Regions from separate parts of the Homo sapiens genome. Here regions 1, 2 and 3 are each linked to region 4. The links come from fine-mapping of genetic effects on gene expression. A gene starts in region 4. Each other region holds a variant in brackets. All regions are shown on one strand. Distances are from middle to middle. Region 1 overlaps ALG6 (ALG6 alpha-1,3-glucosyltransferase). Region 2 overlaps ALG6 (ALG6 alpha-1,3-glucosyltransferase). Region 3 overlaps PGM1 (phosphoglucomutase 1). Region 4 holds the start of PGM1 (phosphoglucomutase 1).

The links. PIP is the estimated chance that this variant, and not a neighbour inherited with it, causes the effect.
Region 1: its variant is the best candidate, but not a certain one, in a credible set for the expression of PGM1 in whole blood (INTERVAL, PIP 0.51).
Region 2: its variant is the best candidate, but not a certain one, in a credible set for the expression of PGM1 in whole blood (INTERVAL, PIP 0.75).
Region 3: its variant is the best candidate, but not a certain one, in a credible set for the expression of PGM1 in whole blood (TOPMed, PIP 0.87).

The regions. Positions count from the first base shown.
Region 1 is chr1:63,373,231-63,381,428 of GRCh38, forward strand. All of the region lies in intron 2 of ALG6 (ALG6 alpha-1,3-glucosyltransferase), which reads left to right. Among named protein-coding and RNA genes, the nearest start is that of ALG6, 9.7 kb to the left of the region's middle. The variant G/A (reference allele first, on the strand shown) is at 4,071.
Region 2 is chr1:63,431,617-63,439,814 of GRCh38, forward strand. ALG6 (ALG6 alpha-1,3-glucosyltransferase) reads left to right here. Exons shown (of 15, transcript NM_013339.4): 15 at 5,207-6,937. The coding sequence ends at 5,404. Among named protein-coding and RNA genes, the nearest start is that of ALG6, 68 kb to the left of the region's middle. The variant C/G (reference allele first, on the strand shown) is at 5,237.
Region 3 is chr1:63,658,352-63,666,549 of GRCh38, forward strand. PGM1 (phosphoglucomutase 1) reads left to right here. Exons shown (of 11, transcript NM_002633.3): 11 at 1,235-1,894. The coding sequence ends at 1,324. Among named protein-coding and RNA genes, the nearest start is that of PGM1, 69 kb to the left of the region's middle. The variant T/A (reference allele first, on the strand shown) is at 4,287.
Region 4 is chr1:63,589,079-63,597,276 of GRCh38, forward strand. PGM1 (phosphoglucomutase 1) reads left to right here and starts at 4,333. Exons shown (of 11, transcript NM_002633.3): 1 at 4,333-4,656. The coding sequence starts at 4,411. RefSeq lists enhancers at 4,320-4,609, 5,310-5,369 and a silencer at 4,650-4,949.

The DNA of each region.
Region 1 (8,198 bases), 220 kb before region 4:
TCCTGAGCTCAAGTGATCTGCCTGCCCCAGCCTCCCAAAGTGCTGGGATTACAGGTGTGAGCCACTATGTCCAGTCAATATTTTAACCAGACTATAGTTTCTCTTTTCTCTTAAAACATTTTTTTTTGGGGGGAGGCTAAGGTGGGTGGATTGCCTGAGCTCAGGAGTTCAAGACCAGCCTGAGCAACATGGCAAAACCCCGTCTCTATTAAAAATACAAAAATTAGCCGGGCGCACACCTGTAATCCCAGCTGCTGGGGAGGCTGAGGCACGAGAATTGCTTAAGCCCAGGAGATGGAGGTTGCAGTGAGCCAAGATCATCCCATTACACTTTAGCCTGGGCGACAGAGCAAGACTCTGCCTCAAAAAAAAACAAAACAACACACTTTTTTGGGCTATTTTTATTTTTCAATTTAATTTAATTTACATTTTTTTTTTTTTTTTTTTTGAGACAGGGTCTCCCCCTGTTGCCCAGGCTGGAGTGCAGTGGCATGATCTTGGCTCACTGCAGCCTTGACCTCTTGGGACCACAGGCATGTGGCTAATTGTCTGGCTAATTGTTTTGATTTTTAGTAAAGATGAGGTCTCACTGTGTTGCCTAGGCTGGTCTTGAACTCCTGGGCTCGAGCAATACTCCTGCCTCAGCCTCCCAAAGTACTGGGATTATAGGTGTGAGCCACTGCGCCCAATTTTTTCAAATACTCTGGCTTAATATAGTTTCTCTTTATTCAGCATGAATTTAAAGGATTTATAGAAAGAACTTGTAAGAACTACTATATTTTGAGTATGAGTATTTTCTTTAGTATTTACCACAACCACTGAAGACAGGTAATATCTTCGATTTACAAATGGAAAATGAGACAACCAATAAATGACAACTGGGATTCAAATATAGTTGTATTTAATTCCACAATCAGTGCTCTTATGACTGTGCTCTGTGGCTTCTGAATGAGTTCGAGGAATATGGAGGAAGTAAAATCACTTAAATGTAGCAGTTGACTTGGGCTCAAATCTTAGCTCTTTCACCTGTTAGTTGCCTGATCTTGGGGAATTTATTTAATCTCCTTGAGCCTCTTCTATCAAGTGGGGTATTAATACATACTTTAAGAGGGTTCTTGGCCGGGCCGTGGCTCACGCCTGTAATCCCAGCACTTTGGGAGGCCGAAGTGGGCCGATCACATGAGGTCAGGAGTTCGAGACCAGCGTGGCCAACACAGTGAAACCCCGTCTCTACTAAAAATACAAAAATTAGCCGGGTGTGGTGGCGGGTGCCTGTAGTCCCAGCTATTCCGGAGGATGAGGCACGAGAATTGCTTGAACCTGGAAGGCAGAGGTTGCAGTGAGCCGAGATCACGCCACTGCACCCCACCCTGGGTGACAGAGCAAGACTCTGTCTCCAAAAAAAAAAAAGGATTCTTGTGAGGATTGAGATAATATGTATAAATTATGTTTTCTTTTTTAATAGTGCAGGGCTATAACTAGCACATTTATAGTTCATAACTCATCTCATTTGATCCTCACATCAGATCATTTAGCCCTAAAATGTCTGCTATGCAGGAAAAATAGGTCTTGCTGGTGATTAAGTCTTTAGGCCTGGTCTTTAGGGTGACCAAGAATAATAAATGGTATCTTCCTTAGAGAAGTTTACAGTCTAGTGGATAAGGTGGACATGTAAATACATACTACATAAAAATGTAGGCTGAGCACAGTGGCTCATGCTTGTAATTCTAGCGCTTTGGGAGGCTGAGGCAGGGGGATCACTTGAGGTCAGGAGTTCCAGACCAGCCTAGCCAACATGGTGAAACCCCCTTTACAAAAAGAAAAATTAGGCATGATGGCACATGCCTGTAGTCCTAGCTACTCGGGCCTCTGAGGTGGGTGGATTGCTTGAACCCGGGAGGCGGAGGTTGCAGTGAGCCAGAGATGGTGCCACTGCACTTCAGCCTGGGTGACAGAGGGAGACTCCATTAAAAAAAAAATGTAGTGTGATATAGGCAAATACTTTGTTTCTTTTCTTTTTCTTTTTTCTCCCTAGACTGAGTCTTGCTCTGTTGCCCAGGCTGGAGGGCAATGGTGCAATCTCGGCTCACTACAATATCCGTTTCCTGGGTTCAAGCAATTCTCCTGCCTCAGCTTCCCGAGTAGCTGGGATTTACAGGCATGTGCCACCACCCCCGGCATTTTTTTTTTTTTTTTTTTTTTTTTTTCCAGTAGAGACAGGATTTCCCCATGTTTGCCAGCCTGGTCTCAAACTCCTGACCTTAGGTGATCCGCCCTCCTTGGCCTCCCAAAGTGCTGGGATTACAGGCGTGAGCCACCACGCCTGGCCCATTTCTTTTACTTCCTTAAAATGCCTTTGTCAGGTTTGATATCAAGGTTAAGCTAGCCTCATAAAATGAATTAGGGAGTATTCTCTCTTTTTGTAAAATCTGGAATAGTATGTAAGCTTGGAATTGTTTGTTCCTTAGATACTTGGTAGAACTTGATAGTAAAGGTATTTGGGCCTGGAATTTTCTTTGTAAGGAAAATGTTTAGTGATTTAATTTGTTTATTGGTTATAGGACCATTTAGGCTCTCTCTTTTTTCTCGAATTATTTTTGTAATTTATATTTTTCTAGAAATGTTTCCATTTCACCTAAGTTTTAAAATGTATTGACATAAAATTATTCATAATGTTTTCTTACCTTTTACATTTTCTGCTGTATCAATGATTATAGTTCCTTTTTTATTTCTTATATAGTTAGTGGTGTTTCATTTTTTAAAACAATCAGTCTTATTAGGGGTTTATTAATTTTATTAGTACAGTCATGCATTGTTTAATGATGGGGATTCATTCTGAGAAATGCGTCAATTGGCAGTTTAGTCATTGTTCAACCATTGTAGAGTGACTTACACCAACTCAGATTGTACAGCCTACTACACCTAGGCTGTACATTATAGCCTATTGCTCCTAGGCTACAAACCTATACAACATGTTACTGTACTGAATACTGTAGGCAGTTGTAGCACATGGTAAGTATTTGTGTATTTAAACATATCTAAACATAGATAAGGTGCAGTTAAAATACAGTATGATTATCTTATGGGACCATCATTGTTTATACAGTTCGTTGTTGACTGAGATGTCATTATTGTGGTACATAGCCGTATTTTTCAAATAACTAATCTGAGCTTTGCCCATTCTCTCAGTGATATCCTTGGGGTTGTTCTTTTTTAAATTTACTAAATTGGATGCTTTAGCTCTTAAGTTTCAGTCTCTGTAACACTATCATTTAAGCTATACATTTTCTTTAGAGTACCATCCCACAAGTAATATTTTCTAATTTCTAATGTGACATCTACTTTGACCCATGAGTTATTTAGAATTATGTTTAAAATTTTTTAAATATTTAGGCTTTAAAAATTACCTTTTTGATATTTTAAATTTAAGTAGATGGTAGAAAGAGAATCTTTCTGTGTACTACTAATTCTTTGAAAAGCATTGAAACTTGACCTAGTATGTAATCAGCTTTTGTAAATGTTCTGTGTGTGCTTGAAAAGAATGTGTAATCTCTAGTTTAATATTCTGCATATATTCAATAACCCAATATTATTGTTTTGATACAATCGTTTTTTATATTCTTACTGATATTTTACCAATTGATCTACCAGTTATTAAGAGAGCTGTAGTTTCTCTTTGTAGTTTTGTCAACTTGTATGTATATATTTTGTATCTATATTACTAGGTGATTTAGAATTGTTTTTCTTTTTTTTTTGAGATGGAATCTCACTCTGTTGCCCAGGCTGGACGGCACAATCTCAGCTTACTGCAACCTCTGCCTCCCGGGTTCAAGGGATTCTCCTGCCTCAGCCTCCCTAGTGGCTGGGATTACAGGCGTGCGCTGCCACACCCAGCTAATTTTTGCATTTTTAGTAGAGACGGGGTTTCACCATGTTGGCCAGGCTGGTCTTGAACTCCTGATCTCAGGTGATCCACCACCTCGGCCTCCCAAAGTGGTGGTATTAACAGGTAGAATTTTTTTGTGTGTGACCTGAATTTCATATCACTGTTGCTTCCCTGTTTGTTTACA[G/A]TAATGCTTTTTTGTTAAAGTTTGTTTCCTCTAAAATTAATATAGCCATAATAGTTTTCTTTAGTTTGATTTTTGCTTGTTATATCTTTTTCTGTCCTTTTATTCTTTACTGTATGTTTAGATATGTCTAAGCAATTTCCTTCCGCAATTGCTGTTTCCCTTCTCTATTGGTTTGAAAGCTATATTTTTATTTTCTTCTTTCAGGACTTATCTGGAAATTTTCAGTTGCATATTTAACTTAACAAAGCCTAAAGTTAATATTTATATCCTCTTGAACAATGCAAAGACTTTAGAATGTTTTAATTCTGGTTACAGATCCTCACTTCCCAAGTTAAAATGTTACTGTCTAGGATTTTGTTTCTTCCATGATTTTTAATCCTATAAATTAGGCATTAATGACTTGTTTTGTACAGTTAATATTGGTTTATTATTTATTATTTATTTATTTTTAGAGATGGGATCTCACTCTATTGCCCAAGCTCAAGTACAGTGGCATGACCATAGTTCATTGCAGCCTTGACTTCCTGGGCTCAGAGGATCCTCCTGCTCCAGCCTCCCCAGTAGCTGGAACTACAGGTGCTTGCCACCACACCCAGCTAAATATATGTTTTTTTATTTTTAGTAGACATAAGGTCCTGCTGTGTTGCCCAAGCTGGGCTCAAACTCCTGGGCTCAAGGGGGATCCTCCCACCTTGGCCTCCCGAAGTGCTGGGATGACAGGTTGTGAGCCACTGTGCCCTGCATATTTATTTAGTTTTACCCTTGTGTTTAGCATTTTCTGTTCACCCTTCTTACATATTGTATCTTTCTTTGAGATCATTTTTTTCTTCCTGAAGTACACCTTTGGGAGTTTTTTTTGGTGAGAGTCTGTTGGTGGCAAACCCAGTTTTTGTCTGAAAATGCCTTTATTTGGCTTTCAGTCTTAAAGTTTTGCTGGGTATGGAATTGTTTTGATGGTTGTTTTCTCTTAGTATTTTGAAAATACCATTGTCTTTTAATTTGTGTTGATGTTTGGACATCAGCTGTCATTTTAACTGTTATTCTTTTGTAGGTAATTTGCCTTTCCTTTCTTGCTGCAGTTTCACTATGATATATCTTAGTGAATATTAAAACATTTGTCATCCTAGGATTTTCTGTGATTTCTGTCTCTAAGGAATGGTATTTTCTGTCTGTTCTAGAAACTTTTCAGCTACTGTGTCTTCTTATTTTTCTTCCTTTTAGAACTCTGATTAGATATATGTTGGATCTTTGGTTAGGAATTCCACAGATAGTATAGGCCATTCACTATGTGCCAAGGGCTGGTGATGCTGCAGAGAATAAAATAGACAATAATCTCTTCCCCTCATTGACTTTATAGTTCTCAGTTATCTCTTCAAATATTGTATCTTCCTCATTTTTATTCTTGTACAACTCTTGTTAGATGTATGTTGGGTCTTTTCATTCTGTCTTCTGTGTTTCATAATCTCTTGTATTTTCCATCTCGGGGTTTCTTCACAGTGCTTCCTTTATAATCATCAAATTTGGTTTCCTGTTCATTAGTTTTTAGCTGTGCTTAATTTGTTTGTTTTTTTTTTTTAACTCCCCATTGAATGTTAAGGTTTCAGTTATTATATTTTTTATTTCCAGAAGTTCTCTTTGGTTCCTTTTTAGATCTTGATCATTTCTGATAGTCTCTTGTTCCTTCAGCATACTTTCAAGGTCTTCTTTTGTATTGTTAAGCAGTTGAACCATGCTTATTTTATGTTTCTTATCTAAAAATTCTCGTATCTGCATTCTGATTTCATAGTTTTTTGTTTCTCCTGACCCTTGCTCATGGTATTTTGTTTCTTCATGAGCTTAGTGATTTTTAATAAAATAGTGAGTTTATGTAATTTGGAACTTTTATCTGTGGGAATTCTTTGAGGCTTGAGTTTCCTGTGCATTTTTCCACATAGGGTTTATGTTGCTTCCTGGTAGGCACCTGGGGCACTATTAACAAAAATCAAACTAAATTAGCAACTTAAAGTTTCTTTGGGTCATGTACTTGGTGTGAATTCAGGCCCCAACCTGGGCAAATGCAGGCATATGGTTAGGAGTTTTCATAGGACTCTTTTTCGTTTTTCCTGTACTACCAGGAGCCAAGGCCGAGATGAGTACTATCTTCACTATCTCCCTAAAGGCATTGTATTTTAAATTGTAGTAGAGGGTTCTCTGACCTTGAATTCCTACCTGTTCAGGTCCCAGGCTTTGCCTCCTTACTGACTGCACAGGGCTCCTGGTAGCCAGGCTATTGACCACCAGAGATCATTGGATACCCTCAAGGCAAATGCTTACTTCTCTGAATCTACACTTTGCTGTTGTTTCTGGGGCCTCTAAGGAATTCTTTCATGTTACTGCTAGTTCAGCCATATATTAAAATTATATATTTATAAAAGTAGGATACGTAATACTATATTATTAATTATATAAAAACAAATATAAATCATACATTATATATAAAACATATATAAAACATTATATTATATACATTATTTATTCAATGTTAACTAGGATTTTTACTGGAGATGTTTTTGGACCCTTTGTCTGGCATATTGCTGGAAACCGAAGTGCCATCTATATTTTTAAAAGCTCCATAAGTTATTCTAGTGTTTACAGAGGGTTAATAGACATGATGGTTGAAGCCAGGGGTTGAGGGGCAAAAGCAACAGGTTTAAGAGTTGCTTTTGCCCCTCAACAAAAGCAACTTTTGTGCAAGAAGAAAACAGATTTAACCACTAATCATCTCCAGAGAGAAGGGAGAATGATTAAAGGAGACTGAGAAGAAACTGTGTAGTAGGCTTAGCATCTGGAGAGTTTGTTTTTCTAGAAGCCAAGAAACCAGACAACTTTACAAAATGAGGACCGGCCAACAGTGTCAAGCTATAGACATGTCAAAAAGGATGAAAATTTAAAATAGACAAGGGATCTATAGGAGACCATGTGAACCTCCTGGTTGCCAGACTGTAATGAACTGAGGACTGAATGGTAGTTATCAAATGGACATAGCAACTTTCAGGACGTTTGTTCGTGAACGGAAGAAAGGAAGTAGTTTGGTGGCTGAAGTGGGGGAAGAAGGGCTGAGGAAAGGTCCAATTAGAAGTTGTTACATAAAATATGTAACTTATAATATTACTTTTAGTCCATAATTGGTCCATTGGAAAGTCATCCCCTTTTCTGAATTTGGTACTAATTCATGGTGATTATTTAGTTTGCAATCTTTTTTCCAGTTTTCCTTTTGTCTCCTAATTGTGACACATATATTATTTTCTCGTTTATTTTAAGGTGAAGTTGAAAAGAACTAAAATCAGAGTATAGGATAAAATACTACAAATTTTTAAATGATACTATTTCAGTATTGCTGGTATATATAATCAAATGCTTAATGGGAATTCAGGAGGGGACAATTCATCCAATACTTCTCTATTCCTGTGACTTACATATATTACTTAACCTGACATTTCTTTCATGAACTGAATTTACTCAATTACTTTTCTCATCTGGAAAAGAAAACAGGACTCCAGCTACTTATTTTAAACCCTGCTCTTAAATTGTCCCTAGGAAAATCAACAGAATCAGATTCCTTTTGGGTTACTATATAAGAAAAATATTGTTATTGCACATTAGTAGATTATTTGAAGGCATCTTGTAGATGGCTATGATATATTTTTGTCATTTTTCAGATAAGGAAAGTAAATATGCTAAACATTAAGAAAAATGGTGGCTGGGCCCAGTGGCTCACACCTGTAATCCCAGCACTTTGAGAGGCCGAGGCAGGTGGATTGCTTGAGCCCAAAAGTTTGAGTCCAGCCTGGGCAATACGGGGAAACCTTGTCTTTATAAAAAATACAAAAATTGGCCAGGCGCGGTGGCTCACGCCTGTAATCCCAGCACTTTGGGAGGCCGAGGCAGGCGGATCATGAGGTCAGGAGATCAAGACCATCCTGGCTAACACGGTGAAACCCCGTCTCTACTAAAAATACAAAAAATTAGCTGTGCGTGGTGGCGGGCGCCTGTAGTCCCAGCTACTAGGGAGGCTGAGGCAGGAGAATGGCATGAACCCAGGAGGCGGAGCTTGCAGTGAGCTGAGATCTCACCACTGCACTCCAGCCT
Region 2 (8,198 bases), 160 kb before region 4:
GCCGTCTTAATATTTAGTCTTCCAATGAACAAACACAGGATGTGTTTCCATTTATTTAGATATTTAATTTCTTTCAACAATGTTTTGTAGTTTTCAGTGTATAAGTTTTGGACTTCTTTTGTTAAATTTATTCTTAAGTATAACGAATGATCCTAAAGCATAATTCTTTATGATGCTATTGTAAAGGAATTGTTTTCTTAATTTCATTTTCATAATGTTCATTGCTACTATATACAAATATATTTTTGTATATTCAACTTGTATTCTTCGGCATAGGTTTTTAATGGATTTCCTACAGTTTTCAATATACAAGATAATGTAATCTGCAAACCATGAGTTTTACTTCTTCCTTTCTAATGTGGATGACTTTTATCTTTTATTTCTCTTACTTGCCTAATTGCCCTAGGACCTATAAGACAGTGTTGAATACAGGTAACAAGAGTGGACATCTTCTCTTTTACTTGATATTAGAGGGAAAGCATCTGGTCTGTCACCATTAACTATGATGTTAACTGTGGGCTTTTTAAAATAGATGTCTTTTATCTGGTTGAGGAAGTTCTCTTCAATTCCTAGTTTACATGTTTTTCTCATGAAAAAATGCTGGATTCTGTCTAATTCTTTTTCTGCATCTTTGGTCATGTGTGTTTTTTTTCTTTTATTCTATTATATGACATATTTCATTGATTGATTTTTGTATGTTACACTAACCTTGAATTCCTAGGATAAATCCTACTGGATCATGGTGTATAATTCTTTTTATCTGCCACTGGCTTCAGTTTGACAGTATTCTGTTGATGATTTTTGCATTTATATTCATAAGAGACACTAACATGTAGTTTTCATGTGACGTCTTTGTCTACTCATAAAGTTCATATATTTAAGGCATATCACATTACATTCAAGGCTAAAATGCTAGATTGCAATGTATTTGAGGTCAAGAACTCTGCATTTTATACATGCCATTTTATCTGTAGCATCTATCAGTGCCTCACAAAGAATAGGTGCTCTGATTTTTGTTTGTTGAATGAATGAATATTCATCTAATTATTATAATGAAAAATTAGAGGCAGCTCAATTATCCAGTAGTTGAAAAATGATACATGAATAAGTATATAAGCTCCACGGAATATTTGACAACTACTACAAATGTTATGAAGTTGTTGTTGTTGAGACAGGATCTCACTCTGTTGCCTAGGCGGGAGTGCGGTGGTGCATTTTTAACTCACTGCAACCTGGAACTCCTGGGCCCAAGTGATCCTCCTTCCTCAGCCTCCTGAGTAGCTAGGATTATAGGCATGCACCATCATGCTTGCCTAATTTTTATTTTTTATTTTATTCTTTTTGAGATGGAGTTTCACTCTTGTTGCCCAGGCTGGAGTGCAATGGCACGAACTTGGCTCACTGCAACCTCAACCTCCTGGGTTTATGCAATTCTTCTGCCTCAGCCTCCTGAGTAGCTGGGACTACAGGCACGTGCCACCACACCCTGCCAATTTTTGTATTTTTAATAGAGACGGGGTTTCACCATATTGGCCAGGCTGGTCTCGAACTCCTGACCTCGTGATCCACCCGCCTCAGCCTCCCAAAGTGCTGGGATTACAGGCGTGAGCTACCGCGCCCAGCCCAACAGGCTATACTTATTTATATTTTTGAGTACTACATAGAGGATTGCCCAAAGTACCCAGATAACAAAGAGAAAAGAATGACTAACTCTATTAGGGGAGTGTAGGGGAAGGTTTCAAAGGAGATATTTTATATTTAGATCTTGTAGGAAGACAAGGCAGGTATTCTCAGGGCAGAGTTGAATGGGTGTCCTGAGGGTTTTGCACTTTAGGTAATGACCATGGAGGATAGTGGTGTGGGAGGTAGGAAGTTAAGAGGTGAACAGGAAAGACAAGGAGAGGATTAACTTTACTCAGGGGTTCAAATGGAAAGTAGATATAAAGTTCATTTTTTGTTAGTATAGGCCCAGATTCCTGAGTGTATGTCAAAATCTAGCCCTATTGTGATATTCACAATCTGGTCCAGTAATCTTAAGGTGAGGACCGCTATGGGCTCCCAGATTTATTTGTTCTTTAATAGTTTTTGAGCACTTACTATATGCAAGCATTGTTCTGGAGGCTGAGGATACGGTAGTGACCAAAACTAACAGAAATCCCTGCTCCCATGGAGGTTGCATTCTAGTGGAGAAATCCAGCACCAGCATATGTAAAATATATGGCATGTCAGAGGGTGATAAGTGCTATGGAGAACAACAAAGCAAGGGAGAAATCGATATGATATGCAGGAGGGATGAATGCAATTTTAAAGTGGCAGGGCTTTCTTGAGCAAAGAACCAAAGGAAGTAAACTGCAGATAATTGAGGGTAGAACATCCTAGAAGAGAAAAACTGCAAATGCAGTGAACATCATGGAGGTCATAGTGATTGGAGCTGGGTGAGGGAAAGAAATAATAGGACCTAAGATTAGAGAGGTAACAGTGTAGTTTCTTATAATGGGACTAGAATCTGACTTACATTTTTAAAAGGTCCCTATGGTAGCTATGTGGAGAACAGATTGTGGATAATGGAATCCATGAGATGATGGTGCTGTGGACCAGGGTAGCAGTGGAAGTGGTTAGAAATGGTCAGATTTTTTATATATTTTGAAGGTAGAGCCAACAGGAATTGCTGGGGTTGTGAAAGAGAGGTGTTCAAGATGACTCCAAGGTTTTTGGCATACATAACTGAATGGGTGGGGTTGCCATTTACCGAATTGGAGGAAGCATGTTGAAGGAACTTTGTGTGTGGTGGGGGCAGTCGGGAGTATGAGGAGACCAAGAGTTTTTTACATGTTTAGTTTTAGATACCTATTAGATATCCAAGTAGAGATATTAAGAAGTACCTGGATATATGAGTCCAGAGTTTAGCGCAAGCTTGTCCAATCTGCAACTGAAGCTGGCTTTGAATGCAGTGCAATACAAATTCATAAACTTCTTAAAACCTGGAGTTTTTTTGCGATATTTTTAAAAACTCATCAGCTATCGTTAGTGTTGGTGTATTTTATGTGTGGCCCAAGATAATTCTTCTTTTTCCAGTGTGGCCCAGGGAAGCCAAAAGATTGGACAACCCTGGTTTAGGGGAAAGGGCCAGGCTGGAGACGAAGTTGAGTCTTTACATATAGTTGGTAATTAAAGTCATATTACTGGATGACTCACTAAGGGTATGAGTATAGATTAATAAGAGGAATAGGTACGAAGCCCCAGAATGCAGACGTAGGGGACATGAGGAACCAGCAAAGATGTCTAAGAATTAACTGGGTGAGATAGGAGAACCAGAAGAGTATGATGTCATGGAAGCCAAGTGAACGAAGTGTTTCAGTGAGAGGAGAGTGATTTCAAATGCTAATGAGAGAATCAAGTAAGGCAGTAAGAACTGACCATGGGATTTACTACACTGGAGGTCATTATGGATGTTTGACTATAGCAGTTTCATCGTGATTAGGGTGAAAGCCCAATTGGTATGGGTTCACTAGTGAATGGGATGAAGACTGGACACAGCATGTTTATAGGCAACTGTTTTGGGAAACAAGTGTAAATAGGAGCAGACAAATGGGGTAATAGTTGGAGCAAGAGAGGGTTTTTGTTCTGTTTAACACTGACTCAAGATCGTGGTATTATGACATTTCAACCAGTCCCATATTTCTTAAGTTTGAAACTTTTATTTTAAAGATTTCATTCCAGATGTTTGCACTTCCCACTAAGGTTGCCTCAGGAATTTTTCCTTTAACGACACTGGCAGCCTTTGTTTGTATCTGCTTGTAAGCTTTCTTGGCGCCTATCCTCGCTTTTCCATTTGGAATGATCACTGCATTACTCTCTATTTAGATCTTACCAATACTGTCATAATGTAGCCAGCAGTTAAGGCATCCTTTAGGGTTCTGTGTCCCACCCACTTCATGGAAGTCACTACTGTTTCTCACTGCTTTCTACATTTATTTATACTGCTTTTGTATACCTGTGTACTGTGCTAGGGATAAAATGAGTAAGATCTTGCTGGTCTTTGTCTTAAAGGAGCTCACAGTCTAGAGTCACAGTCTGTCCAGTACGGTAGCCACTAGACATATATATAAATTTAAACTTATTAAATTTAAATAAAAATTCTGTTCCTCAGTCACAGTAAGTACATTTCAAATGCCCAATAGCCACATGTGGTTAGCAGCTACTATACTGGAGTGCAGACAAAACATTTTCATTACTGCAGGAAGTTCTATTGTATAGCACATTGGCCTAGAGAAGACCACACTAACTGATGACCACACAACTACAATAAATGTGCTAATTATTTTTACTACTCAGCTTGGTATTTAAGCCAGTGTGACTTTGTGATTTTATTTAACATTCCCCTCAGTAGATGGAAAACTCTTTGAGGCCAGAGGACCTCATTTTCTTTCATGTGCCTTCGTGTGCTTTACTCATTGAAAGCATTTAGCGAATATGAAATGTAATTTTCCATTTGCCATGGAAAACTTTTTCACAGATGGGTTCTCAAGGTTAGCTTAGAATTTTAAAAATTGATACAGAATAGATGTATATATTTTGGGGGTATATGTGATAATTTGATTCATTTATTCATTCATGTAATGCATGAAGATCAAATCGGGGTAACTGGGCTATTTATTACCTTAAAAATATGTCTTTATGCTAGGAACATTCAACTTATTATTTTCTAGCTATTTTAAAATGTACATTAATGTTAACTATATTCAGCCTACTGACCTGCCAAACACTAGGTTTTATTTCTTCTAGCTACCTATACATTTGTACCCATTAGCTTAGAATTTTATATCCTGTTGGACCCCAGGGGATGTTATAAATTTAACCCTGACTAGCATTAATATTTGTCCCAGATACCTTTGTTCAGTGCCTTGGTGGTAGGAAGTATAAGAAGACAGGGGTCCTCAGGTTTTGGCTACACATGGGAATCACTTGGAGAGCTTTAAAAAGTACTGAGGCCTGATTTAATTGGTCTGGGGTGTGATGTGGGCATTGAGATTTTAAAAACTCCTCATATGATTCTAATAGGAAGTCAAAGTTGAGATACACCAGAATAAATTAGACCCTCAACCCTCACCTTTAATTCTGCTCATTTAATAGCTACAAGTCAATGTTTCCAGCACATTTAAATTTCACCTTTTATACTACTCAGTAATCCTTTTTTTCCTTGCAGTTTCTTATCTCAGTCATCACTATGGTGCTT[C/G]TGACGTTGATGACTGTCACACTGGATCCTCCTCAGAAACTACCGGACTTGTTTTCTGTATTGGTGTGTTTTGTATCTTGCTTGAACTTCCTGTTCTTCTTGGTATACTTTAACATTATTATTATGTGGGATTCCAAAAGTGGAAGAAATCAGAAGAAAATCAGCTAGCTGTATTCCTAAACAAATTGTTTCCTAAACAAATGTGAAAATGTGAACAGTGCTGAAAGGTTTTGTGAACTTTTTGCTATGTATAAATGAAATTACCATTTTGAGAACCATGGAACCACAGGAAAGGAAATGGTGAAAAGTCATTGTTGTCTACACAAAATAAATGTATATGGAGACCAAAGACCAATGGAGGCTTGTCTAAGTACTGCTTGGCCAAAACATGTGGTTTTATTATTCACAGCTATTCAAGTGGGGAAAAAAGAGAAACATGTCCTTAATCCCATTGTTTACTCAGGAAATGCACTTTTTAAATGTCTTTAAAAAACTGAGAAATATTTCTTGATATTTGCTTTGTCTAAACCTACTTCCTTCATCAGACCATATAGTGAGCTTCATGGGAGAATTGAGCCCCTTCTTTTTAATGGAAATCACTAATTTTGGTATTCAAACTTACATTTTAGAATGCAAGTAGTGTGTATTTCACTGTTTAGAAGTCATATCTTAGGGAATTAAATTTGTGATAATCTTTTTAATTACTGAGAAGGCAATTTAAACTGCTTGAAGTTTGAATATGCCTTATTACACATGCAAATTTGATTGTTTTAACAAGGCAAATAAACCATAATCTTATTTATTTCCAAGAATGCATATTTTAATACAATTAAAAATGAATTTTCCTGAATTTAAATGTAAGCTTTAACTTAACTTTAAGTGGTTTGAGTGAAGTCTTCTAAATTACACATAATCACTGGTTCTAAACTTCCAGAACCATTCTGTTTAATTAAACATTATATTATATATATATTATTATTGACATGGTTCAGGGTTACCACTGCCAGAGCATTGATTCATGTTAACTTCATCCTATTAATACTGTATCACCCTGTATTAGCAGAAGCCAATATTTATTATAGTATTCAACTGGTAAAAATAATACATGATATCCATGTTGCAGTTTCTCATATAAAGATATGTTTTCTTTAGCCTCTGTAATAAAGATAATCATTTTCCCATCAACATTTTTTAAGGAATATATTTCTTCTTTCATAAGATAGCCATTAAACTATATTAAGTGGTGGTATATTTTAATATAGTGCAAATCAAACCACATACAAAAAAAAACTGGTTCTAGACACGGACAGTCACAGGCTGATATAAGAAGGTATGTGTTTCTAAGTCTGGTAAAGGAAGTGGGTTTAGACAAAGCAAAAATCTAGAAAGGTTTCTTTCTCAAAGCAAATGTGCATAAAGACTCAAAGGGCAGGTCAACGCAGAATAGCAGCCTTGAATCACTGCCGAATCAGCAAGAACATTGCTGTCCATGGTCACCATCTGTAATCACTGTGCCCAAATGTCAGCATCTTGGCTGGCTGGTGTAGCTTTATTTTTAAAAATATTTTTTGTAATAGTACACTTGTGTTTAACATAGAATGTTGACTTAGATAAATGATGAGGAAGTTATAAATAATTGGAGTAGCATAACTTTATTATTTGGAAATAAAAGTATTATGTACATATATTAGTAAAATGAAATGCACCTGATTCAAGGTATCATCTAGGTAAATTCTGTAAGGTACCATATAGGTAAATTCTTAAATCATTTTTCAGATGATTTAATCTAATCATACTGAGTTGCACTATAGTTTTTATAGAGACTTGTAGCAGTTATCTTATAAGTATCCCTCGTATCTATTAAAAACCGGTTTAAGAGTTTATATTGAACTTAGAGGGATTAGGTTCCAAAATACCAAAACAAAATACCAGAAACAGAGGCCAGGCACAGCGGTCTGTATTTGAGAGGCTGACACAGGATGATCGCTTGAGACCAGTGAGACACCATCTCAAAAAAAAGCAAAATATCAAAAATATCCAGTGATGAATTATCACAGAAGTAGGCAAGGTCCAAAGCATTTCTCTTAGCTAAACTCAGGGCTATAGGGATGTTTTCATATAAATACATATAGGTTATGCAAAAATATTAAAGATAGATTCCTCACTTTCTTCATTAATATACCTGTCAAAAAATAAGCCCTTCAAAGTTATGTTCAAGTACGTTTTAGATGGAGGAGGTATTTCTGAGAAATGCAGTTTTCTCAGCTGCCAAAAAACTTAGGTTTGCTTCTTAAAATGAAGAGAATAGGGTGTATGTTCATGTATCATATATGAGGCATACAGAAGTCATTTTCCCTTGAGGACTTAGTGGGGGCGAAAAATCCCCAATGTAGCATTCTGTCCAAATGATAAACCACAACAAATTGAGTGAAACATTTACAAAAGTCAGGGCAGCCAAAGGAACCTCTCTGTTCAACAGAGAGAAAGAGATGGATAGGATATAACTAAATAATGGTTAAAGTAACGCAATGGTTTCAAGTCTCAATTGGTCTCTCTTCTGTTATGTTCATTGGAAGATCAGGGCAAGTATATCCCCTGCAACTCCCCCTCCCCTCATATAAACATTAGTTGTGTGTGTGGATCTTTCTGCTTTGTCCTTCATGTGGCCTCCAAGGGTGATAAAGTGAGAGTCATCTGATCTACAATGAAAAGAACTGGGAAATGATTCTCAGCAGACCCAGCTGTTCTAAAAGGCAAAAGCTTAGTATATCAAGAGGTCAAACATACAGTAACTGGTTTAATAGCATTAAGCACATACCTATATAACTTGAATTATATATGAAACCAATCTACTTCTTAACTCTGTATTACCTGACTAACATAGATTACTTTATAAAATGTTTTGGCTTATAACCTAAGGTTAGTTTTCAATGCTATAATAATCCTTTTTTAGTATATTTTT
Region 3 (8,198 bases), 69 kb after region 4:
TTTTTTTTTAATATTGAAAGCATTTATTAAGCAACAGAATTCTCTCTTTTTTTTTTTTTTCTTTAAGCGAGAAGTAGATGTGGGGAGGGGTTGTTGCATTTTTAAAGATTCCTGTATTAGGCCGGGTGCGGTGGCTCACGCCTGTAATCCCAACACTTTGGGAGGCCAAGGCAGGCAGATCACCTGAGGTCGGGAGTTCAAGACCAGCCTGACCAACATGGAGAAACCCCATCTCTACTAAAAATACAAAATTAGCCGGGCGTGGTGGCGCATGCCTGTAATCCCAGTCACTAGAGAGGCTGAGGCAGGAGAATTGCTTGAACCTGGGAGCCAGAGATTGTGGTGAGCCAAGATCGCAGCATTGCACTCCAGCCTGGGCAACAAGAGTGAAACTCCATCTCAAAAAAAAAAAAAAAAGATTCCTGTATTAGTCTGTTTTCACACTGCTGATAAAGACATACCTGAGACTGGGCAATTTACAAAAGAAAGAGGTTTAATTGGACTTACACTTCACGTGGCTGGGGAAGCCTCACAATCATGGTGGAAGGCAAGAAAGAGCAAGTCATGTCTTACATGAATGGCAGCAGGCAAAAGAGAGAAATTGTGCAGGGAAACTCCTGTTTTTAAAACCATTAGATCTCATGAGACCCATTCACTATCATGAGAACAGCACAGAAAAGACCCACCCCCATGATTCAATCATCTCCCACCGGGTCCCTCCCACAACACTTGGGAATTATGGGAGCTACAAGATGAGATTTGAGTGGGGACACAGAGCCAAACCACATCAGTCCCATTGGGAACAGTGTGGGAAAGAAATTGGAAGATGCACAAGTGGATGTGGAGGCACTCACTGCTCCAGGTAAGAGACAGGACATTGACTTAGCAAGACTTAACAGCAGGAGAGTGGAGAGAAAAGGGGGCCATGGAGAGAGATTTAGCGGGGAAAAGTCATTGAGGCCTGCTCATGGACTGGGCATGGGGAAAATGCAGAGGAAGATGTCAGGAGCAACTCCTAGTTGTTCACTTTACATGAAAGACTGTAGTGTTGATCCACTGAAATAGAAACTGCTGGAACTAGGTATTGGGGGAAATAACATGTGTTTGTTTTTGGATTTGTGGAGTTTGAGGAGCCTTGGAGACCTGGAAGTAGGCAGTCAGACGTACGGGTTTGGAGCTAAGCATCTGTGTTTAGAGGAAGTGATGGAAAAGCTTCTCTCTATGTCTTCCTCAGGTCATGTTGGCCCCCCTTATTTCCATTGCTCTGAAAGTGTCCCAGCTGCAGGAGAGGACGGGACGCACTGCACCCACTGTCATCACCTAAGAAGACAGGCCTGATGTGGTACGTCCCTCCACCCCCGGACCCATCCAAGTCATCTGATTGAAGAGCATGACAGAAACAAAATGTATTCACCAAGCATTTTAGGATTTGACTTTTTCACTAACCAGTTGACGAGCAGTGCATTTACAAGGCACTGCCAAACAAGATGCCCTTGGGAGCTGTGAGGGAAAGAGGACCTGCGGGCTTAGATCAATCTCAATTCCTTTTCATGCCCTCCTGCATTGCTGCTGCGTGGGTATTTGTCTCCTTAGCCATCAGGTACAGTTTACACTACAATGTAAGCTATAGGTGGAGCATCAGCAGTGAGTGAGGCCATTCTTCATCCTTAGGATGTGGCAATGAAATGATGGTGCAAGTTCCTTTCTCTTTTGTGAATCTTTCCCCCCATTTCCTGTTTACATGTAACCCAACAAAATGCAATTTCTAGTGCCTTCTGTCCAATCAGTTCTTTCCTCTGAGTGAGACGTACTTGGCTACAGATTTCTGCCTTGTTTTGCGACATTGTCCCATTCACACAGATATTTTGGGATAATAAAGGAAAATAAGCTACAATTGCTTGTCGTCTTTTTTTCTTAACTGCAAAGTACTTTTTTGATTTTAGAAAGAAAAACAATTTTTTTTTTAGAAGGAGGGGAGTATTGTATTTTGTTTTCATGTCCTAGTCAGAAAATGAAATGGTCTCTAGGCTAGGTTGCAAATCCTTAGACTCAAGAACTGTAATTTTTTTTATTGTCCTGAATATTCTAAAAAGTAACATAAATTTTAAGAGAATTGTAATTTAAAATCTTAGCAGGGTCAACTGAGCTCTGGATTCTTCCAAGGTAGACAAATCAAGCTTGACATGGTTAACTTGGAACAAGGGAAAGGAAGAGTGATTTTCCTCTTCCTAGTGCTTAAATAGCAAAGCACTGGTACGTGCTCTGCAGTGCGGAGATGCCTTGACGCTTATTGAAGGGATGGAGGCAGAACCCTCAGAATCTGAGAGCAGGGTTACTGACATTTGGCCAAAAATCTGAGCCCACTGGCATCTTATTCAGCTCAGAACACTTATATTCCATCCATGAGTATATTATAGTTAAATAAGCGTAGACTTGAGAGCCAACAGACCCAAGTTTGAATCCCACTTGAGACCCTGAGTGACTTTTGAATATCATTACCCTATCCTTAAAGTGGGGATGAAAGTAGTTCTACCTTTATGAATTGTTGAGTACCTTAAGTGAGTACATTTGTGTAAAGCAGTGAGCACAGTATCTAGTGCATGGTACATTGTTAAATAAGTGAAAACTAGAATTATGTTTATGATACCATTTTTAGATTTTAAAGTACTGTATATACAGGAAAAACAAAAACTGTAACACTAATATTTGTAACACATTTTACATTTCCAAGGTACTTTCACAAAGTCACCTTGCCATATGGGCTATTCTAAAAAGTCAGCCCAGCTCTGTACCCCTCCCCTACTCAGTATGGACTCCCTGATACAGGTGGCAGGATCTTTATCTGGGGTAAGATTTCCATTGTTGCCAGCTCAGCAAACAAAACTATGCTTTGACAATGATGACAATGATGGTGGTGGTGGTGATGAGTTTGTCTGGAACGTTAACCCCTTGCCAGGCACTTTCCATATATTCTTTCTGAGCGCTTTCCATATATTCTTTAAATCTTCCTGACAACTCTGAGGTAGGTACTCTGAATATTCCCATTTTACAGATGAGGTTCAGTTACTCAACCAAGATCACACTGCTGGGGAGTGGTAGATGCTCCCAGACAGTGCAGCTCCAGCCCTACAGGGTTCAAACCACTTCAGATTTCTTCTACGGACTGTCTACTTCTAGGCTACACCTAACGTGGAAGAAAGGTGTGCAAATGCCCCTGTGCTTTACGCATTAAAGGGGGATACTGTGTGCTCTGGATGCCAAAGAATCTGTTATTTTGGCATTATATTAGCTCCTGCAGAGATCTGGATATCTGGATGTATCAGTCAGCCCGGAAATATGTATTGATCCACATTAAGTGTGAGGTGCTTGGGAGGAAGAGCTGTATAACACAGAGCCCATGCCATCAAGCTGCCTGTAAGACTTGCCAGGGGAATCGAATCTAGCACAAGTAGAAACTGTATGGGATAAATGTTATGAGTTGTGTAGGTAAAACCTACATATTCTCCAAGCACCTATTCTATCTCAGATGTTGGGCTAGATGCTTTCCAGTAACCCTCGAAGCAAGACATCATTCTTCTCGCTTTCCAGTTGAGGCAACTGAAGCTCAACAGAAGCTCATTAATTTGCCCCAGGTTCTCAGCTACCGTGTGATGGAACTGGAATTCTGACCCTAAGTATCGTTCATGTTTCCTGACCCTTTTCTGCCTCCTCATCTCTTGAATCAGCTGCGGATACTCCCAGTTCTGTGGCCCCTGGAATGGCTTCAAAAATTTCCTCCTCCCTGATCGTATTTCAACTGCTTTTCCTGCCTCCACTTGGCAACAGCTTGGAAGTTAAAAGCTCAGGGGAGGAAGAAGGAGGTGGCTGGAGCCATGGGGCAGTGGAGGTGGGTGTGGGTAGTAAGGATCACTGTGTCTCTCCAGGGCTTCCAAAGAGATGCCGCAGTGTGTGTGCCCCAGGGAGTGCGGGAGAGGAGTCCTGAGAGGCGGGCAGCAGCACCCAGCCAGGCTTCCCCGCCTTCCAGCGTTGATGTGGTCTGTGAGTCAGGCTTGTTTTCTTTGGGGTGTGGTGAGAATTACAGTGAGAAAATTGGGTTGGAACTGTTTGGGGCCCAATTCTGAAATTTCACTTTTTCTCTCCCTCTTGACATTCAGCTATTCTCTCAGAGAAGCAGTTTCCTGTTCAGCGATGTGCCCCAGGCCTACACAGTGGCCAGGCTTCCAGTGGCTGGGCTCTGCCTCATAGGGAGTGAAAGCAGAGGCCAAGCTCACTGTGGTTCTGGGGAG[T/A]GTCATCTCCTTGGCCCTTCAAGGCCAGGCTTGAGGACAGGGTCCCTCTGCCTCCTCTGCCATGCTGCTTTCTTCAACGTTTCTTGTTGACTCATTAGAAGCTGGCCTTGCTTATAAGAATTCTCCAGAAAACATATTACCATGAGTAAGAGGTGCCCCCCTTGTGTTTCTGCGTTCTGAACCCCCCCAGCAGAGGGGGTTGGATATGAGTATAACAGCCTTCATGCAGGACTCACTGCATGGCCTGTGGGCTTTGGCGGGGGCACCCCATGGCCTTCTGGCCTTCCCACTTGCCCCTTCTGATCCATTCTCCACACCACCAGCTAAGTACTCTTTCAAATGTTGAAGTGCAGAGGCCTTTGTGTAGCCTCCAGGTCCGTGTGACTCACCTGCCTGTCACTTCCCGCTCCTCTCCCCCTACTCACAGCCTTACATTCCAAGCTTCAGTCTTGGGGAACCATGGCACCTCCCTCCTGCCCCCAGGCCTTGGAAGCTGCTCTTCTTTCCACCTGAATCACCTTTACCCTCCATCCCACCCTCCACTACATTCTCCACCTTTCCCCTCCATTCCACCATCCGCCATATTCTCCCAACTCCTACTTGTTCCTCAGGTCTCAATTTAAACATCGTTTCCTCCAAGAAGTGCTTTCTGAGCCTCCAGTGTCTGGTTTGGGAGCTTTTTCTGGTGTTCCTATCACCTCTATTTCCCCCTTCGAGGCGCTTATCCCATTCTATGTTCATAACCTGTTTACTTTCCATTTCTTCTACTGCCCTGGGAACTCCTACATGGCAGAGACTGCCTTTTTCACCAGTGTTTACCCAGGATCTAGGCCTGTGTCTGGCACATAGCAAAAGCCCCATTAAATATTTTCAGAATGAGTGAATGAAATCTACTAGTTGCACGGCAGAATGTTTCATTATGCTGGAATCTCCCTGACCTATAAGGCAGGATTGTCTCAATTTTACAGGTGACAAGTGATTTGAGCAACTTCCATGCTAGTCACTGGTTAACCAAGAACTCTTTCAAAAAGTGTTAGAGGCTGCAAGTGAGAAAGCACCCAGGAGAGGCGGGCAGGAGGGTACTGGCAATAGATGGGAGTTATGTGTCATGGTCACTTTGAAGAAAATGTTTAATTTAAATGATAAAACACATTTTATCTCCCACTGCTACAAAATTAATTGGGAGGTATAGTTGGGGAAGAGTTCTACTGAATACAGAAATGAGTGCTTTAAGGAACAGAATCAATAAAACCAGCCTCAATCCCCAAAGCCCCCCTCTGAGCAGATTCACGGAAAGGAACCCATGATGGGTAAAGTGGGTACCCTGGCACTGGGCGTCATGCTGGCATGGGGATCCTCCTCTGAGCATCTATTTCTGGAAGTCTGAGAGGCTCTTCTCAGTTCCCATTATCAGAACAAGAAGCATTCCCACAAGTGTGTCATTATCCAAAACAAGTGAGGTCACTGGCGGGAGCATGTCTCATGTCTGTCTGATCGTCCTATGGAAACCGTGGAGGGCTTTGGTTTGGTTTTCACCAAATATGAAAGCTCCACCTCCATCCAGTAAGTTGTCATTGTGGGTGTGGGTTAATAACTATTTTCCAGAAAGCATGTCTTATTGAGTGCAGCTCTCCAATTAACAGAAAGGCTAGTTACGAGTAGCAATCTCTTTGCTTCTCATGACGGTGTCATTTCATAAAAGCTTCATCTTCATTGGTTTCTGACTTCATTTTTACATGATGGTAGGAGTGCTATTATTATCCCAGATAAAGCAATGGAAGTTGTGAGAGTTTATGTGATTTGTGCAGAGTCCCACTAATGATGAAGGAGAAAGCAGACCAGCCACCTCCAATCACCCTTGGATGTTTGGATTTTTTTTTTTTTCTGTTCAACCTTTGCTGTATAACAAAGTACCCCAAAATCTAATGGTATTAAACTTTTGCATGATTTTATGATGCTCACAGACTCTGCGGGTCAAGAAGCCAGTCAGGGCACAGTGGAGATACAAGCTTGTCTCTGCTCCACAATGTCTGAGGCCTTATCTGGTATCTTTGTCTGTTTGGGCTGCTATAACAAAATACTGTAAGCTGGTGGTTTTGTAAACAATAGAAATTTCTTACAGTGCTGAAGGCTGGGAAGTCCAAGATCAAGGCACCAGCAGATTCAGTGTCTGGTAGGGGCCCACTTTCTAGCTCATACATGGTGCCTTCTTGCTGTGTCCTCCCATGGTGGACGGGGCAACAGGTCTCTCTCAGGCCTCTTTTATAAAGACACTAATCTCCTTCATGAGGGCCCCACCCTCATGACCTAATCACCTTCCAGAGGCCCATCACCCACTGCCATCACCTTGGGGATTTAGATTTCAACATGAATCTTGGGAGGACACAAACATTCAGACCGTAGGCTTTGGTCCTGGGTCCCCAAATTTCATGTTCTTCTTACATGCATAATATACTCATTCCAACCCATTAGCCTCAAAAGTCTTAATTTATTCTGTCATCAACTCAAAAGTCTGAAGTCCAGAGTCTTTTCTAAATATCAGCTAAATCAGATATGGGTGAGGCTTAAGGTGCAACTCATCCTGGGGCAAATTTACTCTCCAGCTGTAAACCTATGAAATCAAACATGTTATGTGTTTTCAAAATACAGTGGTAGGATAGGCATAGTATAGACATTCCCATTGTAAAAGGGAGATACAGGAAAGAAGAGGGGTAACAGGTCTCAGGACCCAGGTCTGAAACCTAACCTGGCCAACAATGTTAAATCTTAAGACTGAGAATAATCTTTGGTTTGCCATCCAACCTGCTGGACATGCTGGGGCAGGGATTGGGACCTCAGGCTCCAGATGGCCCTACTTCCGTGGCTTTGCTGGGTACAGCCCATGCTACAGCTCTCGTGGGTTTTAGTCAAGTGCCTACAGTTCTCCCAGGCTGGAATCACATATAGGCGGTTCTACTGGTCTGACAGCAGCTCTACTAGACATTGACCTAGTAGGGACTCTGCAGTGGCCCAGCCCTCTTGGCAGCCCTCTGCCTGGGTCACACACCTGAGGCTCTGGGTAGTTCCATCCTTTGAAATCTTGATGGAGGGAATAATGCCTCCTTGGCTTGTATACTCTATGTGCTGGTGAAGGTGGCATCTTGTGGACACTCCCAAAGTTTACTCTCTGTGCCCTCTGGAGGAGGAGCAGCTACAGAGTACCACTATGCACTTGAATTCACTAGAGCTGAACTTGGGGCAGCCAAAGAGCTTGGCAAAGAGCAGAGCCTTGAAATTGTTCTGTTCCCCCAGTCCCTTGCAGTCTGGACCTGTGAAGTGAGGGGGCAGCCTTGATGATCTCCAAAATGCCTTCGGGGTTATTCCATTGTCTTGCACAATAGGTCCTGGCTTCTGTTTAGACGGGAGTCTAATCTCCCCATTGTCTGGATGAATAGCTTCTAGCTTTGATTGAGATGGCCCCTCTGAACTAACTTCCTTATCAAACTTGGCCACACCCTTCATGTTCTCTCTCAAACAAGCTTTCTGATTTTTTCTAATATGGATAGGCTGAGAATTTTCGAAATTTTTAGGCTCTGGTTCCCTTTTGGTTAACAGTTTCATTAACTTTAAATCGTTTCTGTCTTCGCACATTTCACTATAAGCACTCAAGAGAAGCCAAACAGCACATTTTATACATTGCTTGGAATTTCTTCAGTCAAATATCCAATTTCATTGCTCACAAGCATGACCTTCTACAAAACACTAGAATATGAACATAATTCAGCCAACTTCCTTGCCACTTTATAAGAAGCATGGTCTTTCCTCCACTGTCCCATAACATGTTCTTCATTTCTATCTGAAATCTTATTAGAATGGTCTTCACTGTCCATGTTTCTGTAACTGCCCAATGGGTTCAGTTTGCCACTGCCTAGA
Region 4 (8,198 bases):
CACTGCAAGATCCGCCTCCCGGGTTCACGCCATCCTCCTGCCTCAGCCTCCTGAGTAGCTGGGACTACAGGCACCTGCCACGACACCTGGCTAATTTTTTGTATTTTTAGTAGAGATGGGTTTTTACCCTGTTAGCCAGGATGATCTCGATCTCCTGACCTCATGATCCGCCCACCTTGGCCTCCCAAAGTGCTAGGATTATAGGCGTGAGCCACCGCGCCCGGCCGAGACTATTTTGTCTTATTCATCAAACACCTTTCAAAGAGCTGTCATTTAGTACAAGTTCAAAACATATTTATAGAGTTAATGAATCAATACACGAACGAATACATCTAAATGGTAAAGAATAATTCATTAATGAAATAATGAGGGCCGGGTGTGGCGGCTCATGTCTGTAATTGCAGCACTTTGGGAGGCCGAGGAAGGCAGATCACTTGAGGTCAGGAGTTCCAGACCAGCATGGCCAACATGGCGAAACGCCATCTCTACTAAAAATACAAAAATTAGCTGGGCATAGTGGCATGTGCCTGTAATTCCAACTACTTGGGAGGCTGAGACACGAGCATTGCTTGAACCCCAGAGGTGGAGGTGGAAGTGAGCCAAGATCGTGCCACTGCACTCCAGCCTGGGTGATGGAGTGAGACTGTCTCCAAAAAAAAAAAAAAAAAAAAAAAAGTAAGGATTACCACTTAAAAGGTATTTCAAAGAAAAGGAAAATACATAATATGTACTTATCATTTTAAAAATAATACAAATTCCCTATAGAAAACCTGGAAAATCCAGATAAAATATAAAGAAAATAAACATTGCCCTATCTTGCAACTCAGTGGTAATCATTGTTGCATATCTTGGTATATTTCCAATGGCTTCTTTCCCGATTTCAGTGCTACCCACAGGGGAATAAGACTCCTTCTCTTGCTTTTCATAAATACTACAACTTGGAAATCTCTGCAAGTCAATTTTTGAACGTGGGTAGAACCTGTGAATACGATGATACATTACTCCTATGAACACGTTACAAAGGGAGATTATCCAGGTAGGTCTAATCTAAGAAATGGGGACCTCAATCCTACAACTGCAAGGAAATAGATCCTGCCAGCAATCTGAATGCGCTGTGTTAAAATCAGATCAAACTTTAAAAATTTTTAAAAGTTTAGCATGCATACAAAGAACAGTTTACAAACTGGAAGACATCTAACCAAAAGTGGCAAGAAGCCCAGCTCACAGCAGTTACAGTACAGCTTATAAACATTGAGGAAGAAGTATTTTGACCTTCGTTACATTCTTTTTAAGGCGAGTAGAGCTGTTAAGCTGATTTGTCTATAGCTGATTGGTTTAATTTCATTGACTCACACTGTCAAGGACATTTTGTGTTTTGTTTATGTCTAGAGCAAGTGTTTCAGGGAAATAAGGATGACTTAAGTTTTGGCTACCTGGCTATGGGTGGTTGGACTTAAAATATCTAAACTGGAGCCTCTATTTTTATTTATCTTTAACACTTGAAAGAAATTCTTCCCAGAGCCTCCAGATAAGAAGCCAGCTTGGCTCTTGACTTCAAATCAAGGTGTTCTTCCCAGAGGCTCCAGATAAGAACGCACCAAGCTTGGGTGGGTTCTTATCTTGAGGCTCTGGGAAGAATTCAATGAAATTAAACCAACTGGCTATAGACAAATCAGTTTAAACAGGTATGCTTGCCTTAAAAAGAATTTAATGAAGGTCAAAATACTTTCTCCTTGATGTTTATAAGCTGTTATATATCCGTGATTACCAGGATTGAACCTGGCCAAACCTTTTGATCTATAGAATTGGGACTTCTTATCTATAGAATTGTGACATCATAAATGGGTGTTGTTTTCAGCTGTTGAGTTTGTGGTAATTTGTCATACAGCAGTAGAAAAGTACGGGTTGAGTATCCCAAATCCAAAAATCCCAAACCCAAAATGCTCCAAAATCCAAAACTTTTTGAGTGCCAACATGACACTCAAAGGAAGTGCTCATTGGAACATTCTGAATTTGGGATTTTTGGATTTGGGATGCACAACCATTGTAATGCAAACATTCCAAAATCCGGAACAATCTAAAATCTGAAACATTTCTGGTACCAAACATTTCGGATAAGGGATACTCAATCTGTAATACAAGGGGATTGCATAAAGGCATGATTATCAGGAGGCAAGGAACATGGGGATCATGTTAGGTCTGTATAAGGGGCCACAGTAACCCTGTCCAGAACAGCAGAACTGCCAGTTAACTCATAGAATCATGAACTATAATCATGAATGGGGGTTGTCTTAAGCCACTCAGATTTAGACTGGTGTGTTATGCAGTTAAAGCTAATTGTTACAACTTCTGGGGTGAGAGAAGTATAGATCAATTCCTCTTAAATGAAAAGCTCCATCATATTTCCAAAGATACTGAAGAATATAGAAAGGGCATGAGATCTGAATTTGGGCCCGTGACTTTACAAGTTATCATTTATTGATGACTTACTTATTAGCACTGTGGTAGGAGCTGTATATTCTCTATCTAAACCATACAACTCTAAGGTAGGTATTTTGAAGGCTCAGTGAATCTATGCTATATTTTCATTTTGTGGAGTTAGATAACCTTGATTACATTCACCATCCAATCCTCAATTCTCTCGTCTATAAAATGGGCTTGATTATATTATTTAATTCACAAGATTACACTGCTCTGTAAACTCCTGTGCAAATATTAGAACTCATTACTAGCAGTCCAGGGTTCCGTTTTCACATAATATTTGCCACCGAAACTCATCTATAGTGACTACATCAACACACTGTATCTACATAGCATGTACTATATGAGCATGTATATCAACACTTGGTTTGTGAGAGTCTGCACTCTTATGGGTCTGTTCGCCTCCCTGCTTGATCAAGACATACCAATTAACTACCAAAAGAATATAATTCACAGGTGAATGATATGCTCTGGTTTTGGAATTGGGGAAGGGGAGCTAATATTTTTGAAGGCCTCTATGTTTCAGGCACCAGGCTAGATGATTTACTTCTAACAGCTGATTATGATTGAATTTGTTTGGACTGGGTCATTTAGAAACCACCTCAAGTAATTCTACTGTGAGCATGGGTCACAGTAGGATTCTACTGTGTATCCATGACTGAGAATTTCTGACATACAAAACCCCATTAAATCTTGCAAAAATATTCCAAAGTAGGTGATATGTTTATTTTACAGTAAGGAAATTGATGCCCACGGACATTAACTAACTTTCCCAAGAGCACACACCTTGTAAAGCCAAGTTTTTTGCCACTTTACCAAAATGACAGGTTTCTTGAACAGAGGAGACAATCACTCTCATCAAATTAAGGGAGATACTAAACCGAAAAGCAAGAAAGACTGAAGATTCCTACTTAATAATCAAATCCCCTTGGTTGACCTTGCTATCCCCCGTGAAACTTTTCCAGCCATGTCAGTCCTTGTTTGTTGATCTCCTCACTTTATTTCTATTACATGAGTAACTGGCTAATTTTGATGGTGTTCATACTTATCCTTACCATATATTTGCTCCTACATTTGTCAAGTCCTGCTTGTACATTTCCTAGTTGCCAACCTGGTGTCACAGCGGGCAAATCATGGGAAGAGCCCTGGTTTTGGAGCCAGACCACCTGAATTGGCCTCCCGCATGGACTTAGCTGTGTGGCAATGAGACAAGGCATTTTATTCTTTGAATTTCAGTTTTGTAAGCATAAAAAGGGGAAAAATAAAACCCAGAGTTTAGTAAGGTTTAGAAACGCTACACTCAGCAAGTCATAGCTAAGTCACCGTCACCAATGGTAGTCAAGTGTGTGGTGCAGCAGGAAACATTTGGAGTCGACTCCTTTACGGAACTCAAATGCCCTCACATTTAGGGAGAAATAGAAAGAATTACGACTCATGAAATCGAGCTGGGGCTGGCACTTCTGACCCTCCCAACAGGTTTCCAGAAAGCTATTTACACACGATGCATTCGCCAAACCACTGGAAATCATTCTACCCTGTACTTTTTTCCACCCTGCCTCACGTCCTTGCCCTATGACCGGGTTCCTACCCCAACCTCTGCCCCAACACTTAGAGGAGGAGTTGCGGGCCTCTTTTTACAGTGGATAGGATTCCGAAGGGGAGAGTAAATCAGTAAGGCTCCACCCATTTCACAGGAGGCCTAGAGACCGGCGCTCCCCTTTCCCCTCCCGCCGGACCTGCCAGGAGGTGGGCTGGCGCGGAGGGAGGGCCCTGTCCCCTGTCCCTTTAAGGAGGAGGGCCAAACGCCGGCCTAGAGTGCGGCGTAGCCCCCACCCGCCGTGCCCTCACCCCAGAGCAGCTGCAGCCTCAGCCGGCCGCCCCTCCGCCAGCCAAGTCCGCCGCTCTGACCCCCGGCAGCAAGTCGCCACCATGGTGAAGATCGTGACAGTTAAGACCCAGGCGTACCAGGACCAGAAGCCGGGCACGAGCGGGCTGCGGAAGCGGGTGAAGGTGTTCCAGAGCAGCGCCAACTACGCGGAGAACTTCATCCAGAGTATCATCTCCACCGTGGAGCCGGCGCAGCGGCAGGAGGCCACGCTGGTGGTGGGCGGGGACGGCCGGTTCTACATGAAGGAGGCCATCCAGCTCATCGCTCGCATCGCTGCCGCCAACGGGGTAAGGGATGCGCGGCCCCGCGCCGCTGTGCACCCTGGCGCGTGTGCGACGTGCGGCCCGCGGCGCCCTCCCTCGCTCGGGGCCGGCCGCTTCCGCGCGCTGCCGCCTCGGTTTCCACCTCCCGCTCCTCCCTCTCCTTCGCGCTCGCTCTTCTGGCCTGGAGGCCCGACGGAGGTCGCCGGGCTGGGGAAAGTGGCCACGGGACCCGGCAGACCTGCTCGCCTGACTCCCGGGGCGCCGGGAGGTGCGGGCGCGGAGCCTCCCAAGGTCACGCCCGACTCTCCGTCTCTAGCCGCTGCCTTCCCTCTCCCCGTCCCCCGCCCCTCCCGAGGCGTCTGACATTTGCCCTAACCTTGCAGCCTTGGAAGATACGATTACGGCGCAGAGTGCTGTCGCCTTAAGCAGGAAAGGTTAGACTGCCGCCGCCTCGCCCAGAGCCCCCTCGCATCCCGCCCGCTCCTCTGCTATTCTCGGCTAGGACTGGCGCTTCCCGCTGGCTCGGAGCCCGACACTGTGGGGCAAGGGTGGCGAGAGCACCCATCCCCCTGGGGCGTCAGGTTGGCAGATCTCAGCAGGCGGGTGCCAATCTTTTCTCCCCGCCCCCTAGTTTGCCTTGGTTCCGAACTCCTGCCCTTTGCGCGGCCTGCTTGCTGGGGGGCAGGCGTTTGAAACATCTAGTCTCTGCCCAGTGGTGCCCGGGATCTGTTCCACCGACGGGGCTGGAGCTGAATTTTCATTAGAATGGCAACATACCCAAAGACGCCCTTACGCAAGCAAGCAGTCGTGGCAGGCCAGGAAATTACCGCAACACCTTGGTTCCGCCCCCGGCCAAGGAAAGTTAACTGACTTGATTGGGCGGGTCCACTCGGATAGGGGAAATTAAAAAAAAAAAGTTTTTCAGTAAATCTGATATATGGAAATGTGGGGCCGGGCATGGTGGCTCACGCCTGTAATCCCAGCACTTTGGGAGGCTGAGGGTGGTGGATCACCTGAGGTCAGGAGATCGAGACCATTCTGGCTAACACGGTGAAACCACGTCTCTACTAAAAAATACAAAAAAAAAAAAAAAAAAAAAAATTAGCCAGGCGTGGTGGCGGGCGCCTGTAGTCTCAGCTACTCGGGAGGCTGAGGCAGGAGAATGGCGTGAACCCGGGAGGCGGAGCTTGCAGTGAGCTGAGATCCCGCCACTGCACTCTAGCCTCGGCGACAGAGCGAGACTCCGTCTCAAAAAAAAAAAAAAAGAAAAAAAAAGTGGATTGATAAGTTGGGGCTAATTATTCACTTACTTTTGTAAAACATTTCTAAGGAGTTCTGAGGACCAAGTTTTCTTTCTATATTTTAAGTGAGATTTGACTTATGCCCAATTCTTCTGGAACGCATCCCCTGAAATGGATATTTTTATTCATTTTAATAGTACTTTATTTATCTTATTTTGTTGACATTGAGTACTATTTGCCAAGCACTATGGTAAGCGCTTCATTTCTGGGTCTCATTTATCCTCCTGCAGCCCTATAAGGTAGATGCTATTATGGGTATCTTCAAGTTGCCAACGAGGACGCTGAAGCTTAGGTAGGTTAAATAATTTACAAAAACTATAATGGCAGCACTAAGAGTCCAATATAGATCTGCCAATCCCAAGAACTTGAACAGCTCCTGAGAATGAAGAATGAACAGCCCTTGATCTTGAAGATCTGTTTTCCAGGCTCCAAAATCTAAACTGGGCTCTATCTACATCTGCCTTCCTGGGCCAAACATTTATAAGCATCAGTGAGAGAAGATTGCCTGGATTTGTTTACTTTGTGGTCCTGAATTTTCAGACAAGCGCAAATTCCCATGAAAGAAGAACAGACAATAGCTGTATCCCAGTAGATCATTTCCCTGTTACCACCTGTGCTGAATTTGCATTTCATTCATTCATTCATTTATTCAGTCAGTCATTCAACAGATCCTGTTGAATACCATGTTCAGAGAAATGTGTGGACTAAAAGGATGATGCAGACCCAAGAGTTGTCCTTAAGGAGCTTACAGCAGAGTGGGAATTTTAGGTGCCCAGATGGAAATTTGTCCATTTGGGAGTAGTGTGGGGTGGGAAGGAAAGAATTAGTTAAGACTAAAAAAAAAAGTTCTTAAAACTTCATCACCCTTTAGCCATTGCCCTATTGCTCTTCTCTCAGCCAACCTTTGTAAAAGCTTTCTGCATTCACTATTTCTCATTCTCACCTCCGGTTTACTCGCCATTTCACTGCTTCTGCCCCCTCCACTACTCCAGTAGAATTGCTCTTGCCAAAGTTACTAGGGACTTGCCAGTTGCTAAATTCATGGAATACACTCTGGTCTAATCTTATTTGGCCTTTCTGCTGCATTTGGCAGTGCTGATTTTGTACTCTTGTAAAGTTCTTCCTCCCTTGGCCTTGCTTACTCTCCTGATTCTACTCACACTTTTTGGAAGTTCCTTCATGGGCTGCACATTGACTATCCCCTAGGTTTCTTTCTTCTTTCTTTCTTTCTTTTTTCTTCTTCTTTTTTTTTTTTTTTTTTTTTTGAGACGGAGTCTTACTCTGTCGCCTAGGCTGGAGTGCAGTGGCGCAATCAGCTCACTGCAACCTCTGCCTCCCAGGTTCAAGCAATTCGCCTGCCTTAGCCTCCTGAGTAGCTGGGATGACAGGCATGCACCACCACACCTGGCTAATTTTTATATTTTTAGTAGAGATGAGGTTTCACCATCTTGGCCAGGCTGGTCTCGAACTTCTGATCTCAGGTGATCCACCCTCCTCGGCCTCCCAAGGTGCTGGGATTACAGGCGTGAGCCACTGCGCCTGGCCTATTCCCTAGGTTTCTACGCTCAGGTTGTTCTCTGATTTTGTTCACTCTCTCTACTCACTCGGGATTTAAATATGCTACTCTTTCTCTTGTGATATGATTCAGTCCAGATGGCATCTTCAGAAACCTTTCTTGACACCCCATCCCTACCACTCTTCTCCACCTATTAAGTGCTCCTTTCCCATAGATAATTCTAGAATATATATATTAAATTCTAGTGAAATTTTCCGTTTACATGTCAACGGCCTCCAACTAGAGAGTAAGCTTCTTTAAGTCAGACCTGTGTTTTACCTGTATCTGCAATGCCTAGGACTATGTAGCATTCAATGAATTCTTGTTTATTTGCTCTGAACTGTGAGTCACTTTTGTATTCTAGCACTTGATTTAAAGCCAGCATGTAGCTGGTGACCAATAAATTTATTCACATCAAACATTTATTATGTGCTTGCTTTGCCTCAGACATTGTACTTGAGATACAAAATATTTTTGCCCTTGGGAAAGACATAGTCTGGGAGGGGTGGTATACAGGAGTAAGCAGACAGCACAATGTGTCAGGTGTTGTGATGGAGGGATGTGCAGGTGTCTTTAACCTGAGGGGCTGTACTTGGGAGGGGAAGATGAAGGGAGGGAGGCTCCATAGAGGGGTGGTAGCCGAATTGAGTCTTAAAGAATGACTTGGAGTTCCCAGAGTGGGTTTGTCTGGTAGGAGGAATTCTTAGCAG